Linked DNA regions of Homo sapiens. The protein of the gene in region 1 interacts with the protein of each later gene in a biochemical or structural test. Each region holds a gene or a part of one and is shown on either strand. Other genes may lie near its edges.

Region 1 (3,500 bases):
TTTGCCTCATTAATCCTCACAGTGGCCCTAAGGGGTAGGGTATTTATTAATCCTCCAATTTTGAAGATGAAGAATCTGATACTAAGGTGATTTAGCTAGTAAGTGGCACACCAGTACTTAAACCTAGACCATCTAGCCACAAAGCCCACACTCTTAATCACTACTCCAATGATAATCATCAGATAGATATACAAGATGTATGATAGTTTCAATATATAACAGGTGACAAAAAAACCTATTGTATAAAATGACTGAAAAATGAACAGTAAACTAGGCAAGAGGTTGAAGGAGCAGAAGTTGGAAAGTATAACTGACTAAAGGACACAGAGGATCCATTTGAATATATTTCTTGCTTTACAAAGACTTACTGAACTAATTTCCTGTTGTGAATCTTGTAGGTGCTGCTGAAGAGGTTCCAACTGAGCCTTCCCTGACTCTACACTCTCCTCCAATTCTGCTGTTTCTTGCTGTAGACGGCTCAGCTCTTCTCTAGCTTTTGCCAATTCTTCTTCGTAAGTGGAGATCTGCGATTCCTGACTAGTTAATTCAGCTTTCAGAGAAGAGATCTATAATGTGAAAGTGAATGAGAAGAAATGGGGATTAAAAGAAGAGATGTCATTAAAATGTTCCAAAATGCAATACATTTATTTGTTTAGTTTACTATTTTGGTGTTTTTTTTGACAGCAATAGCAAATAATTTATTTAATTTAATTTTTGAGAGAGAGAGTCTTGCTATGTTGCCCAGGCTGGATTCAAACTCCTGGGCTCAAGTGATCCTCCTGAGTAGCTGGGACTATAGGAACATGCCCAGCCATACCTAGCCCTATTATGGAGTTTTTGATGTTGTTGTTGTTGTTGATGTTTTATTTTTTTGAGACAGTCTCACTCTGTCACCCAGGCTGGAGTGCAATGGCACGATCACAGCTCACTTCAGACTTCAGGCTCAACTTTCCCAGGCTCAGGTGATCCTCTCACCTCAGCCTCTCGAGTAGGTGGGATTACAGATGTGGGCCACCACGCCTGGCTTTCAATTTTTTTTTTTTTTTTTTTTGAGACAGAGTCTCGCTCTGTTGCCCAGGCTGGAGTGCAGTGGCGTGATCTCAGCTCACTGCAAGCTCCGCCTCCTGGGTTCACACCATTCTCCTGGCTCAGCCTGCCGAGTAGCTGGGACTACAGGCACCCGCCACCGCCCTGGCTAATTTTTTGTATTTTTAGTAGAGACGGGGTTTCACCGTGGTCTCGATCTCCTGACTTCGTGATCCGCCTGCCTCGGCCTCCCAAAGTGCTGGGATTAAAGGCGTGAGCCACTGCACCCAACCAGCTTTCATATTTTTTGTAGAGATGGGATTTCTCCATGTTTCCCAGGCTGGTCTCCAACTCCTGGGCTCCAGCAATTCCCCCCGCCTCAGACTCCCAAAGTGTTGGGATTACAGGTGTGAGCCACTGTGCCCAGCCAATTATGATGTTTTTTGATGTATGGTTTTCGTAAAGAAGGGTAACTGGGGGAGGGACAGAGGAGAGTTGAAGGTATAGGCACCATATTTCCAACAAAAATTTGGAAAAACAGTTCATTAACTGCCCTTCTATTTCCTCTAAAGAAGGCCTGTAATTTCTGGATGAACCTTGCTCCATCGCCCCCATGAACCCAAATGCTGACTGGATTGCCAACCACCACCATCAATAACAAAAAGTAGAGAATGTTTTCATCTTAAGCCAGGAAAAGCAACTAATGTATAGGTGCAGGCAGCAGGAAACAGCCAGACATTACCAGTTGGGCCTCCTCAGCACATTTCTTTCTGACTTCCTTGAGTTGCTCCTCCAGCTGGGCTTTCTGCTCATCCAGTTCATCAAGGAGTTCCTGTACCTGCTGTTTCTGGGCCTGTAGTTTTTGCAGATTAGTATTCTCCCTTTGAACTTCATCTTGAAGATCCTAAAATCCAAGAAAATTAATATATTTATTTTCTTTGCGGGCAGGGGAGGGTTAAGTTAGTAATTTTAAATCTACCTTAAGAAAGAATAAAGTCTTACTGAGTATACTGTGTTGATGAGACTAGGGTACTTAACAGCTTTAAATACAATCTTTACTTGAAGACATCTTTCCTAGAATCCATATTTAGATATTCAATTTGCTAACTCAAATCTGTCCTTGGACATGTGATGGGCTTTGCTAACATGTTGAAAATAGAACTCCTGGAATTTCCCCACAAATCTGTTTTAAGCTCAATCTTTCCCCTCTCAGATTCTCTGGTCAAAAAAAAACCCCACATGGAGAAACCCTGTCTCTAACAAAAATGCAAAAAAAAAAAAAAAAATTTAGCTGGGCGTGGTGGCGCATGCCTGTAATCCCAGCTACTCGGGAGGCTAAAGCAGGAGAATTGCTTGAACCCAGGAGGTGGAGGTTGCAGCGAGCCGAGATCATGCATTGCACTCCAGCCTGGGCAACAAGAGTGAAACTCCATCTCAAAAAAAAAAAAATTAGCTGGACGTGGTAGTACGTGCCTGTGGTCCCAGTTACTTGGGAGGCTGAGATGGGAGGATCTCTTGAGCCCAGGAGGTCAAGGCTGCAGTGAGCTGTGATCATGCCACAGCATGCCCAGACTGGGCAACAGAGTGAGACACTGTCTCCAAAAAAAAAAAAAAGAAAAATTAATTCCAGGTAAATAATGGACCTGAATGTAAAAGTCTAACTTTAAAATGTGTAGAAGAAATGCAGATCTCAGTGTAGGAAAAGATTTCTTAAAACAAAAAAAGAACCATTTTGAAAATGTTATTTATTCATCCATGTACATACCAGACCTCATGCTTAATAACAAGAACTACAGAAATTTTTAAAAAGCCAGGCGCAGTGGCTCAGGGATTAATAACTCCGAAGTATCTGTCAGCAGGAGGTAGGCAAAGATTTCAAAGCGGGTGAGGTAAAACTGAACACAAATTTCTAAAAATAATATCTATTCAAAGGTCCCAACAGTCATTCACCAGAATAAGAATCTAAGAACAGAAGAGAAACTTACAGGTAAAAGGTCTCTGAATTACTGCATAGGTTACACAAGATAGCACCATTATGATAATAGCCAACACTTTAAATGCTACTTAAAATGTGCTAGGTTGTGCTCTAGGCTCTTTAAATATACTAACTTATTTATAGTCTATATGACAGATCTACGAGTTAGGTACTGATATCATTTCATATTTTACAGATGAGAAAACTGAAGTACTGATGTGTAGGTAATGTGTCCAAAGTTAAAAATAGTAAGCTATGGATTCAAAGTGGGTTCTGACTCCACAGCCTGAGCTCTTAACCACCATGTGACATACCATCTGCAGACTAAATGTCTCACATGTGTCACTATTTTTCAAATATATGCAGATGTTTCTGTGATTAAATAGAACACTGAACAATGCTTTCAATAATTGCTTTTTATCTTATATTTTCTTAACCAACTGGTTAGTCTAAAAATATCATGTTGCTTTCTTTAAAAAATTCCTTTAAAGCCCAGGCA
Region 2 (3,500 bases), on another chromosome or scaffold:
CTACAGTCATTGCCGAATGTGTCCTGGAAGGCAAAATTACCCCCAACAAGAACCACTGGTTTACAGCAAAGTAGGTAATTCGATGTGGAAAATGTTGAGTGTATGCCAAAGGAACATCTTAAGATGTAAATATTAACTAGAAATCAGTTATATGTGAGAGCAGACAGATATTAAATCTGTTTATCAACTAATAAGGCATCAATGTTGACTTTGATAATCCCTATTGTTTTGGAAGATAATTAAGTATTGACACCAAAATTATGTTATCTAGGATTTGGTGAACTGCTGGGCAACACAGTGAGACCTTATCACTACAAAAAAAAAATAAAAAAATAAAAAATTAGCAGGGCATGGTGGCATGCGCCTGTGGTCCCAGCTTCTCGGAAGGCTGAGGCCTTCCTTGAGCCTGGGAGGTTGAGCTTGCAATGAACCATGATTACACCATTGCACTCCAGCCTGAGCAATAGAGGGAGACCCTGTCTAATTGGGGGAGTCTTAGAATGCCATGAGAAAAAAAGAAAAGAAAAGAATAAACTAGCCCTAGTTCTTTATTTTTTTGAGATGACGTCTCACTCTGCTGTCCAGGCTGGAGAGCAGTGGCGCAATCTCGGCTCACCAAAACCTCCACCTCCCCGGTTCAAGCGATTCTCTTGCCTCAGCCTCCCAAGGAGCTGAACTAGCCCTAGTTCTAAAGAGTGACTGTCTAAACTGGCTTCAATTAGGTAAACAATAGATACCTACTATACACAAGGTGCAGTGTTGTGATACAGGGGATACTAAAAAAATACAACTCTTAATAAAGTTTCTGCCTCTTAAAATGAAAGTTAAGTACATAACGGTAACAAAGTAAAGTGTGGCTTAATGCTGTGATATAGGCACTTAGCAAACCAGGCCAATGTCTGTTTGTTTTATTAAGGACCATTCCCAGAAACTAACAAAAGGGTAACTGTTTTCCAGAATAGATGTCTATCTACATTTATAACTTTAATCCATTTCTTTTGTCTTCTACCTCATTAATTTTTTAACAGATGCAAAATCATTAAGTAGGGAGCCAGATCGTACTTAACATGCACCAAAAACATAGTTCTCAATCCCAGCTGTATGTTAGAATCAGTTACCTAGAGAACTTTAAAAAAATATTGATGCTCAGATCCCACTCCTAAACAATTAAATCAGAATCTCTATGGATGAGACATACACACAGGTATTTATTTTCTTATTTATATATTTAAAAAAATACAGAGTCTCACTATGTTGTCCAGGATAGTCTCAAACTCTTGGGCTCAAGTGATCCTCCTGCCTAGGTCTCCCAAAGTGCTGGGATTACAGGCATGAGCCAACCTCGCCTTGCCCACATAGGTATTTTTAAAAAGCTTCCCAAATGAATTCTAACACCAGTCAAGACTGGGAACCATCAATATAAGAATGAATATAAACATGCTGCTAGGAGCAACAAAATAATATGAAGGCAACAATTTGTTTCCAGCTGAAATCAGCATCTTAAATCATTCAACCTACCAAAATTTTAAAAAATCATTTTCATTTTTAAAACTCTGTAATTGAGAAATTAAAATAACACCTCCAAAAAAAAAAAAAAAAACACCTCCAGGATGCTTATGCCCATAACTCTTGTTCTGAAATTGGTATTATAATGTGTAATTATTTCATTTTACTCTATTAAAAAGACATGTGGGTTTACACCATTATTGGTATGTTTCAGAATTTAGTGTAGTAGTCCCCCCTTATCCATGGTTTCGCTTTCCATGGTTTCAGCTACTTGCAGTCAACCACAGTCCAAGAATATTAAATAAAAAATTCCAGAAATAAACAATTCATAAGTTTTAAATTGTGCACCACCTCACTTCGCCCAGTCTGTGACATGAATCATCCCTTTGTCCAGTGTATCCACACTGTAGATGCTACCTGCCTGTTAATCACTAAGTGGCCGTCTCAGTTACCAGACTGACTATAGCAGTATTACAGTGCTTGTGTTCAAGTAACCCTCATTTTACTTAATCATGGCTTCAAAGTGTAAAAGCAGAGATTCACGTATGTCAAAAAGAAGTTGTAAACTGCTTCCTTTAAGCAAAAAGGTGAAAGTTCTCAACCTAATAAGAAAAAAAACCAAAAACCTCATGCTGAGGTTGCTAAGATCTATGGTAAGATCTTTTATCTGCAAAATTATGAAGGAAAAAGAAATTTGTGCTAGTTTTGCTGTCACACCTCAAGTTGCACAAGTTATGGCCACAGGGCATAACTTTTATTACACTATATTGTTGTAATTATTCTATTTTATTATTAGTTATTGTTGTTAATCTCTTGTTACTAATTTATAAGTTAAACTTTATCATAAAAATGTATATATAGGGAAAACATAGTATATATAGGGTTCAGTACTATCTGTGGTTTCAGGCATTCATTGGAGGTCTTGAAACATATCCCCTGCAGATAAGAGGAAGACTGCTGCATTATTAAAAACTAAATTGTAGGCCCGGCGTGGTAGCTAACGCCTGTAATCCCAGCACTTTGGGAGGCCGAGGCAGGTGGATTGCCTGAGCTCAGGAGTTCGTGACCAGCCTGGGCAACACAGTGAAACCCCATCTCTACTAAAACACAAAAAATTAGCTGGGCGTGGCGGCATATGCCTGTGATCCCAGCTACTTGGGAGGCTGAGGCAGGAGAATTGCTTGAACCCATCAGACGGAGGGTGCAGTGAGCCGAGATCATGCCACTGCATCCAGCCTAGGTGACAGAGCAAGACTCCCTCTCAAAAACAAACAAACAAAAAACTAAATTGTAATGTGTTAGTCAAAAGAGACAAGGCTTAGTTAACCCTTATTCACTATACATGAGAACTGTTTTACTTGAATTAGTATGGTATTAGTCAGGTGTGCTGGCGTGTGCCTGCAGTCCTAGCTACTTGGGAGGCTGAGGCAGGAGGATCACTTGAGCCCAGGAAGCAGAGGTTACAGTGAGCCAAGGTCATGCCACTGCACTCCAGCCTGGGTGACAGAGCAAGACCTTGTCTCAGTTTAAAAAAAAAAAGGGCCAGGTATGGTGGCTCACGGCTATAATCCCAGCACTTTGGGAGGCTGAGGCGGGCAGATCACCTGAGGTCAGGAGTTCAAGACCAGCCTGGCCAACATGGCAAAACCCCATCTCTACTAAAATACAAAAATTAGCCGGGCATGGTGGCAGGTGCCTATAGTCCCAGCTACTCGGGAGGCTGAAGCAGAATTGCTTAAACCCAGGAGGCGGACATTTCAGTGAGCCGAGAACTCACCACTGCACTCCAGCCTAGAAGACAGAGCAAGACTCCGTCTCAAAAAAAAAAAAAAAAAAAAAATTAGTACGGCTATAAATGTAGAATTCCAAATAAGTTTAATATAATATTTCATCATTCAGTACTAATAAATTTAATATTATGGAACTGTTGCAGGCCTTACTTTCCATTTATTAATCATATGACTTTGAACAAATTCCGTAAATCACTCCCAATA
Region 3 (3,929 bases), on another chromosome or scaffold:
CCTTCCCCAGTGATGTCATGTGCGGGTGGTCGGCCCGTTTTCTTTCTTTCTCCTGCCACATCTTCATCAGTGCTCTCTTGGCGATGAGGGTCTCCAGCAGCTTCTGCACGTCAGGGTGGATGAATGTGCAGCCACCTACCTCCATGTGCTTGGGTGTGGGGTCTCCCCAGAAGGAAGCCTCTGAGGTGTGGTCGGGAAGATGCCGTGGCTGGGATTTGCCATGTGAGTAGGTGGAGAGGCCCCAGGTGGTGGCAGCCTCCCTCCAGCAATAGAGGTCCCAGATGGGATCGCTGGAGCACCCCAGGCCAGAGATCACCCTGGTTGGAGGAGGCAGCACCTGGTTGTGTAGAGGGGAGCTCTGGGGGACGGGGCATGTTGTGGAGCCACACTGAAGTCCAGCCAGGCTGGAGTCGGGTGGAGGTGGAGAGGAGGCCAGGGGACCATGCGGCTGTGGTGAAGGAGGAAAAACCACATGTGGCTGGGTTGCAGGGCATTTTAGGGGAAGCAAGGGCTCTGGTGGCCCGGAGGCACTCAGGGTTGAGTGTGGTCCAAAAGGCTCTGAGAAGGTCATCGGGCCTGGTGACAGGGTGGAGGCCAGAGGAGCTGGGGGAGCTGGTGGGGACAAGCTGGCAGGAGACGGATCTTGCATGCATTTCCCATGCGGCTGGTGGGCCTTAGCAGGCACTGGTTTACACACGTCCCCCAGGGGGTCTCCACCTAAGGGCAGGTGGGAGCTGCCTTCGCCAGCGAGCTTCCTCAGGTGGCTGCAGGAGACAAGAGGCACAAGCTGCAGCCAGGGGTAGATGGGGCCGGGAAGCTGGGACGGGTGGGCACCTGGGGCCCCCGGTTCCTCCACCTCCCCAACTGCTGACTTCATAAAGCTCTGCCTAAGCCTGCCCCAGGGCTTCAGTCCCCTCCTGTCCCCTTCCCGGGACCTCCCCCTCCCAGATCACCACCAGGCCGTAGGGTTGCATCAGAGGCCCTGGTAGGAAGGAGGACAGGGACAGAAGGGGGAAGCTCCTCACCTTTCCAGAAGGTAGTTCAGGTCCCGAGTCTCCTCCAGCTCCCTCAGGAGGATTCTGCAAGCTGGAAATCAGGAGACAGGGTTATGGTGGAGAGGGCGGTGCCTGGGAACCTCATGGAGGCTGAGTGGATGTCTTTTTAGGGGACACCATGGGGGACTAGACCCTGAAGCCCTCGCATCTGTGTCCGAGGCCACATGGCCCCAATGGTGACAGGAAGGTTTCCACTGTGCAGCACTTTGTCATTTGCAAAAAGTGCTTCCACGTCCACCCCCTCATCGGTGTCACAACCATCTTGTTGGGAGAGCAAATGGGTGGTCTCAAAGAGGAGTCAGCCATTGCTGAGGTGAACAGCTGTCCACATGGACCTGGAGCCTCCCTGACCTCCCCCCATATCCAGGCAGGCCTTGGTCCCTTCCCCACACCGCCCCCTTATGGGCAATACCGGTCCCAGGCCCGTGGCTTCATTCCCGCAGGGAATCTGAGGAGGCCGCAGGTTCTGATTTCTCTCCCAGGAGCTTCCCTCTCAGGCCTCTGCAAATGACTTCCTCAGGGACAGGCAAAGCTCAGTTACCTCTGGGGAGTCCCGGGGGGCAGCAGAGCCTCACCTTTCAGAGCTGAGATCTTCCTGCTCCTGGACCTCCCGCTTCTCTCCCTTTGAGGCTGAGAGGCAAGAAAGGATGAGGGGCTGGGACCAGTTCTCAGTCTCCTCTCCCCAGACCAGCTGCACACACGCAGTGCTCATGAGGGACACGGCTCTCAGCCTCTAGCTCAGGGAGCTCTGTGTGTGCTTTTTACTCATGTTTACCGTGAATGAAATGTTTTCTGTTTTCCTTCTTAGGGAAATGCAAGGAAGGGTTGTCTGTGTGACTCCAACCTGGCTGTCCCCAGTCCCTGCTCCTCCGCTCAAGGAACACCTAGGCTCAGGCCCACAGGCGCCTCTGAGCTGCCAGTAGGATTCTGCTTTGGATGAGAATGGAGAGGAGGCCAGGGTACCATGGGGCTGTGGTGAAGGAGGAAAAAGCACATGTGGCCGGGGTGCAGCCACAGGCGAATCCAGGCTCTACTGGGAGGCTCTCAGGAGCTCAGCACAGCTCCCAGATCACACCCAGATCATACAGAGGAGGCTGGGCCCCCAGGCACCTGCCCCAGGAAGGGGGTGATGAGCCAGGGCTGGGGCCTCTCCTCCCACAGAGACCTCACCCCTCTCCTGACCCGGTCCTTGCCACTGAGTCCAGTGTTGGTTTTTGCCCTGACGCCTCCTGTGCACCCCACAGATGAGCTCGGGATGGAATCCTCTGCCCACTCTCACCCCTGCCTGCCTTGCCCTTCCCTAGAGGGATGACGAGATTTCCCATCACAGAAGGGTCTCACATTGCTTAGGAAAAGTGGAAATGAGGGGAGGAAAAGAAGAGAGAATCTTTCTCTGTGGGGCTGGGCTGAGGACTCCTTACCTCCCTGCTGCTCCTCTTCCTCCCGGGCGGGGGTGAGGGTGGGTCACTGTGGACGTAGAGGAGCAATAGGAAGAGGAGCACTAGGCCACACACACTGGTGAGGATGAAATCCATCATCCAGGGAGTGGAGCTAGGGCTCAGCCATGTGGCACTAGGGCTCTTCAGAGGAAAGAGCATTTTCTCCATCTGAAGTGCAATGTCGTCTCCTGTGCACTCCACAGATGGTCTGGGAGCTGGGGGTGGAATCCTCTGCCCACTCTCAACCCTGCCTGCCCTGCCCTTCCCTAGAGGGATGACGAGATTTCCCATCGCCTTCAAGCAACTGAGCTCTGGGCATCCCCTTTGGGACTAGGGACTGGGGCCCAGGCTTGTATCACACAGCTGGGGCCTCCTCCTCACAAAGGGCTCCTGGGGGTGGGGGAGGGGCAGTGGGAGGAGGAGGCTGAAGCACAGCCCCGCCCTCAGCTCCCAGCCCCCAGTCCCTCCACCCTCCTGGGTCCCCCAAATCGCTCCTTCCCACTCCAGCTGCTCACCCTGTCAGAGACAGTCCTCAGTCCATTTTCTATTCTCTTCCCCTGGAACACAGGTGTCACCTGGCTCTCCTTGTACCTTGGAGATCTAGGCCTGAGCCCACCCATTTCATAGCCTTTGAAACTGTGAAATTCTCCTAGGAATTTAGGTGGTTTCTTAAGGATTATTTCAGAATCTCCTCTGTTTTTGTAATTTTCCCACACCTTACATTTTCTACTTTCATCAACCCAGAATAGAACTCTTAAATTTACAAAACTAAAAAGTATAAAAATTACAAATAATTAAACCTCCAAATGACATTTTTATATTAGGAACATAATTTTGAGTTACCGAATTATGGAGCTTGCTGTAAAAAAACCTCAAACACTTTGACAAATTATTTTCAAAACAATAATTAAGCCTTTACTTATTTTCTTTAGATCTTTCATATGTTGTCCTGATCCATTTTTTCTTTCTCTGCCCCAAATACAGTCCTCACTTTCCTAAGTTTTGGAACATGTGTGCTCCACCATGAGCCAGGAGTGGTTTGGGGTGATCTGAGGTCCAGCTCCTTTGGGTGGAGAGCGGGACTGGGCATTCCGTGCCAGGCTCAAGTCCAGTGTTCAGCAGACTCTTCTGAGATCACTCGTGTCCTCCGTACATATTCTTTTTTTTTTTTTTTTTGAAACGGAGTCTCACTCTGTTGCCCAGGCTGGAGTGCAGTGGCATGATCTCGGCTCACTGCAACCTCTGCCTCCTGGGTTCAAGCGATTCTCCTGCCTCAGCCTCCCAAGTAGCTGGGACTACAGAAGTGTGCCACCATGCCCAGCTAATTTTTGTATCTTTAGTAGAGACCAGGTTTCACCATAGTGGCCAGGCTGGTCCTGAACTCCTGAGCTTGTGATCCGCCCGCCTCGGCCTCCCATTTGTATTCTCTGCTCCA
Region 4 (2,991 bases), on another chromosome or scaffold:
AAATTTGTTCTCTCAAAAATAAGACACAGGCTGGGTGCAGTGGCTCATGCCTGTAATCCCAGCACTTTGGGAGGCCAAGGCAGGTAGATCGTGAGGTCAAGAGATCGAGACCATCCTGGCCAACATGGTGAAACCCTGTCTCTACTAAAAATACAAAAATTAGCTGGATGTAGTGGCACGTGCCTGTAGTGTCAGCTACTCGGGAGGCTGAGGCAGGAGAATTGTTTGAACACGGGAGGTGGAGGTTGCAGTGAGCCAACATCGCACCACTGCCCTCCAGCCTGGCGCAGAGACTCCGTCTCAAAAAATAAAAAAATGAGATACAAATTTTCTAACCAGATTTTAAGTTTCCCTCTGCTATTCAGGTATCAGGTGTTTCTGTGAGGAAATGGAAAAATCTTATAAATGTGGTTTTTGATGTGGTTAGTCAAGCCTTTGAAAAGAATATCCAAGGCCAGGCATGGTGGCTCATTCCTGCAATCCCAGCACTTTGGGAGGCTGAGGCAGGTGGATCACTTGAGGCCAGGAGTTGGAGACCAGCCTAGACAATGTGGCAAAACCCTGCCTCTACTAAAAATACAAAAATTAACCAAGTGTGGTGGCACGTGCCTGTAGTCCCAGTTACTCAGGAGGCTGAGGCACGAGTCTAGCTTGAACCTGGGAGGCAGAGGTTTCAGTGAGCCAAGATTGCACCACTGTATTCCAGCTTGGGCCTTAGAGGGAGACTCTGTCTCAAAAAATAAATAAATAAATAAATAAATAAATAAATAAATAAATAAATAAATAAGAATGCTGTAAAATAGGCTGGGCACGGTGGCTCACACCTGAAATCCCAGCACTTTGGGAGGCTGAGGCGGGTGGATCATGAGGTCAGGAATTCAAGACCAGCCTGGCCAATATGGTGAAACCCTGTCTCTACTAAAAATACAGAATTAGCCAGGCATGGTGGTGTGCGCCTGTAATCCCAGATACTCAGGAGGCTGAGGCAGGAGAATCGCTTGAACCCAGGAGGCGGAGGTTGCAGTGAGCCAAGATCGTGCCACTGCACTCCAGCCTAGGCAACAGAGTGAGAGACTCTGTCTCAAAAAAAAAAAACACAAAAAATTCTGTAAAATAGAAATCTGTTTTCTGTTGCTGACTGTGTACTCAGAAGAGGGACAGGAAATATTTCTAAGGTGATTGTCAAGGTTGTTGCTCTTGGTCTATGGTAGAACTTTTGCACAACCAAATTGGTTATCAAGAATTGTAAAAGTTTGAGGGCCTGGATAGTAATTAAGAATAAGGCAGCAGTTCATCTCCACTACTGATCTATGCCTCCAGGCATAATAATACAAGTTGGATCAATGTTGTGACATCCTATTCTCCATTTCTCTGTGTAGTGTTAAGCTTCTGTGCAGGGGATCACAGGATCTTACTGCTAGTACCTAGCATTTCTGTCCATTTGCTCTATCCAGAAACCTGGGAACCCTCCTAGACTCCTCCTTTCTCATTTCTTGATTCCAACTCCTAAATATCTTTCAAATAACTTTCTTAATATCTTTCCTTTTTATTAGCCCTAGTTCAGATCCCCCTTTCCTATCATCTAGAGTCCTAAACTGTTTTGACTTGCAGTTGGTCTCCCAACCTTGCATCTTGTGCTTCTCTTCCCTTTTGAGACACTAATCTGAAATGTTCTTGTCTTCCTTATCTTTGGTGACTTCCCATGGTTACATCATGAATTTCTTACCATGGCCTGGCCCATGCTACCACTCTAGTCTCATCTGCCACTCCCCTCTACCTGTATCCTGTTCTCCTGCTAATCTGATATAGATGCTATTTCGTTAAATGCATCATGCTCTGTCTCTGTATCTTTGGTAACTTCTGCCTAAAATACACACCATCATCCCCACCACCATTTATAATTTTCAGCTGAGATAGGTGCTTTTGTGCCTGTAGCTCCTCAGAGCTCCTTTACAGCATTTATAATATTCATTATAATTATTGGTTTACTGTTCCTGCCATTCCATTAGACTGAAGTATACTGAATAAATGGTGATGATACTAGAAACAAAACACCTCAGAAATACCTACTTGGCATTATGTTAGACCAGTAAAACTTTAAAAAGAAAAGTGAATAGAAAATAGCAATGTTATACAACTCTTCCCAACCGTAGTTACCTTTCCATCTTTACTTCTTCTACTACTCAGTAGTCATTTCTTTTTTAACTTTATGCCACCTATATCCCTCCTAGGGTTTTTCTCTGGGCTGTCCTCAGTTACTTCCTTCTTCTCTTTTGACTCGCCTCAACATGCATATAGCATAGGAGTCCAGTAGTTAACATCTCTGAAGATTAGTATTGAGTCAAAGAAAAGCATGGGTTATTTACTTAATGAAAATTGATATTCACTAAAAAATATGAGATTTGGAAACAGGATAATAGTTTGTTTACTGTGCACATCTAATGAATGTAGCACAGGACTGATGTAGTTTAGCTTACTTGCTCATTTGATTCTATTTTGTTTGAAATGTATTTTACCCTGTGTAAGTGCTTTATTCTTTTCTTTGTAGGTTCTGGGTCCCTCCGAGCAAAATTTGATCTTTCAGAAGGACCTAGTAAACCCACGACACTTGCAGTACAATTCCTCAGCGAGGGAAGTACCCTTTCAGGAGTAGATTTCGAACTTGTGGGCACTGGCTATAGGCTTTCCTTAATAAAGAAGCGGTTTGCTACTGGTAAGTTAGGAGATTTCAAACTTTTTAATGTACATGGGAAACATTTGTATTCTAACAGTTATTAAAAAACTGTCAAGCAATTTATAATCTAAAGACATGGAAATTTTTTCTTTAACCCTTGGTACAAGGTGCCAGGTAGAGACACACCTGGGAGAGAGTTCTTACGGTCAGTATAGCTGAACACCTGTTATCTGATTCTAATGTACTGTAAATAGCAGATGGGAACTAGAGTTTTGTATTGGTAACCACAGTGGAAAATGTCCTTAGAGTGCATTTGA

What was found. Proteins that work in one complex are often made in the same cells at the same time.
Region 2: of the proteins of EPS15 (region 1) and USP8, one has a biochemical effect on the other in vitro, tested with the Homo sapiens proteins (one study listed by BioGRID).
Region 3: the proteins of EPS15 (region 1) and SPATA31E1 interact in a test that uses a peptide from one of them, tested with the Homo sapiens proteins (one large-scale study listed by BioGRID and IntAct).
Region 4: the proteins of EPS15 (region 1) and FCHO2 form a complex in vitro, tested with the Homo sapiens proteins (one study listed by BioGRID).

Annotation. Positions count from the first base shown.
Region 1 is NC_000001.11:51,407,767-51,411,266, forward strand, and holds part of EPS15 (epidermal growth factor receptor substrate 15), read right to left. Parts: intron 1,931-3,500; coding exon 1,769-1,930; intron 567-1,768; coding exon 369-566; intron 1-368. UniProt on the Homo sapiens protein: Involved in cell growth regulation. May be involved in the regulation of mitogenic signals and control of cell proliferation. Involved in the internalization of ligand-inducible receptors of the receptor tyrosine kinase (RTK) type, in particular EGFR.
Region 2 is NC_000015.10:50,427,405-50,430,904, reverse strand, and holds part of USP8 (ubiquitin carboxyl-terminal hydrolase 8), read right to left. Parts: intron 1-3,500. UniProt on the Homo sapiens protein: Hydrolase that can remove conjugated ubiquitin from proteins and therefore plays an important regulatory role at the level of protein turnover by preventing degradation. Converts both 'Lys-48' an 'Lys-63'-linked ubiquitin chains.
Region 3 is NC_000009.12:87,881,748-87,885,676, reverse strand, and holds the start of SPATA31E1 (spermatogenesis-associated protein 31E1), read right to left. Parts: upstream 2,801-3,929; 5' UTR 2,786-2,800; coding exon 2,477-2,785; intron 1,686-2,476; coding exon 1,631-1,685; intron 1,087-1,630; coding exon 1,026-1,086; intron 765-1,025; coding exon 1-764. UniProt on the Homo sapiens protein: May play a role in spermatogenesis.
Region 4 is NC_000005.10:73,085,041-73,088,031, forward strand, and holds part of FCHO2 (F-BAR domain only protein 2), read left to right. Parts: intron 1-2,548; coding exon 2,549-2,713; intron 2,714-2,991. UniProt on the Homo sapiens protein: Functions in an early step of clathrin-mediated endocytosis. Has both a membrane binding/bending activity and the ability to recruit proteins essential to the formation of functional clathrin-coated pits.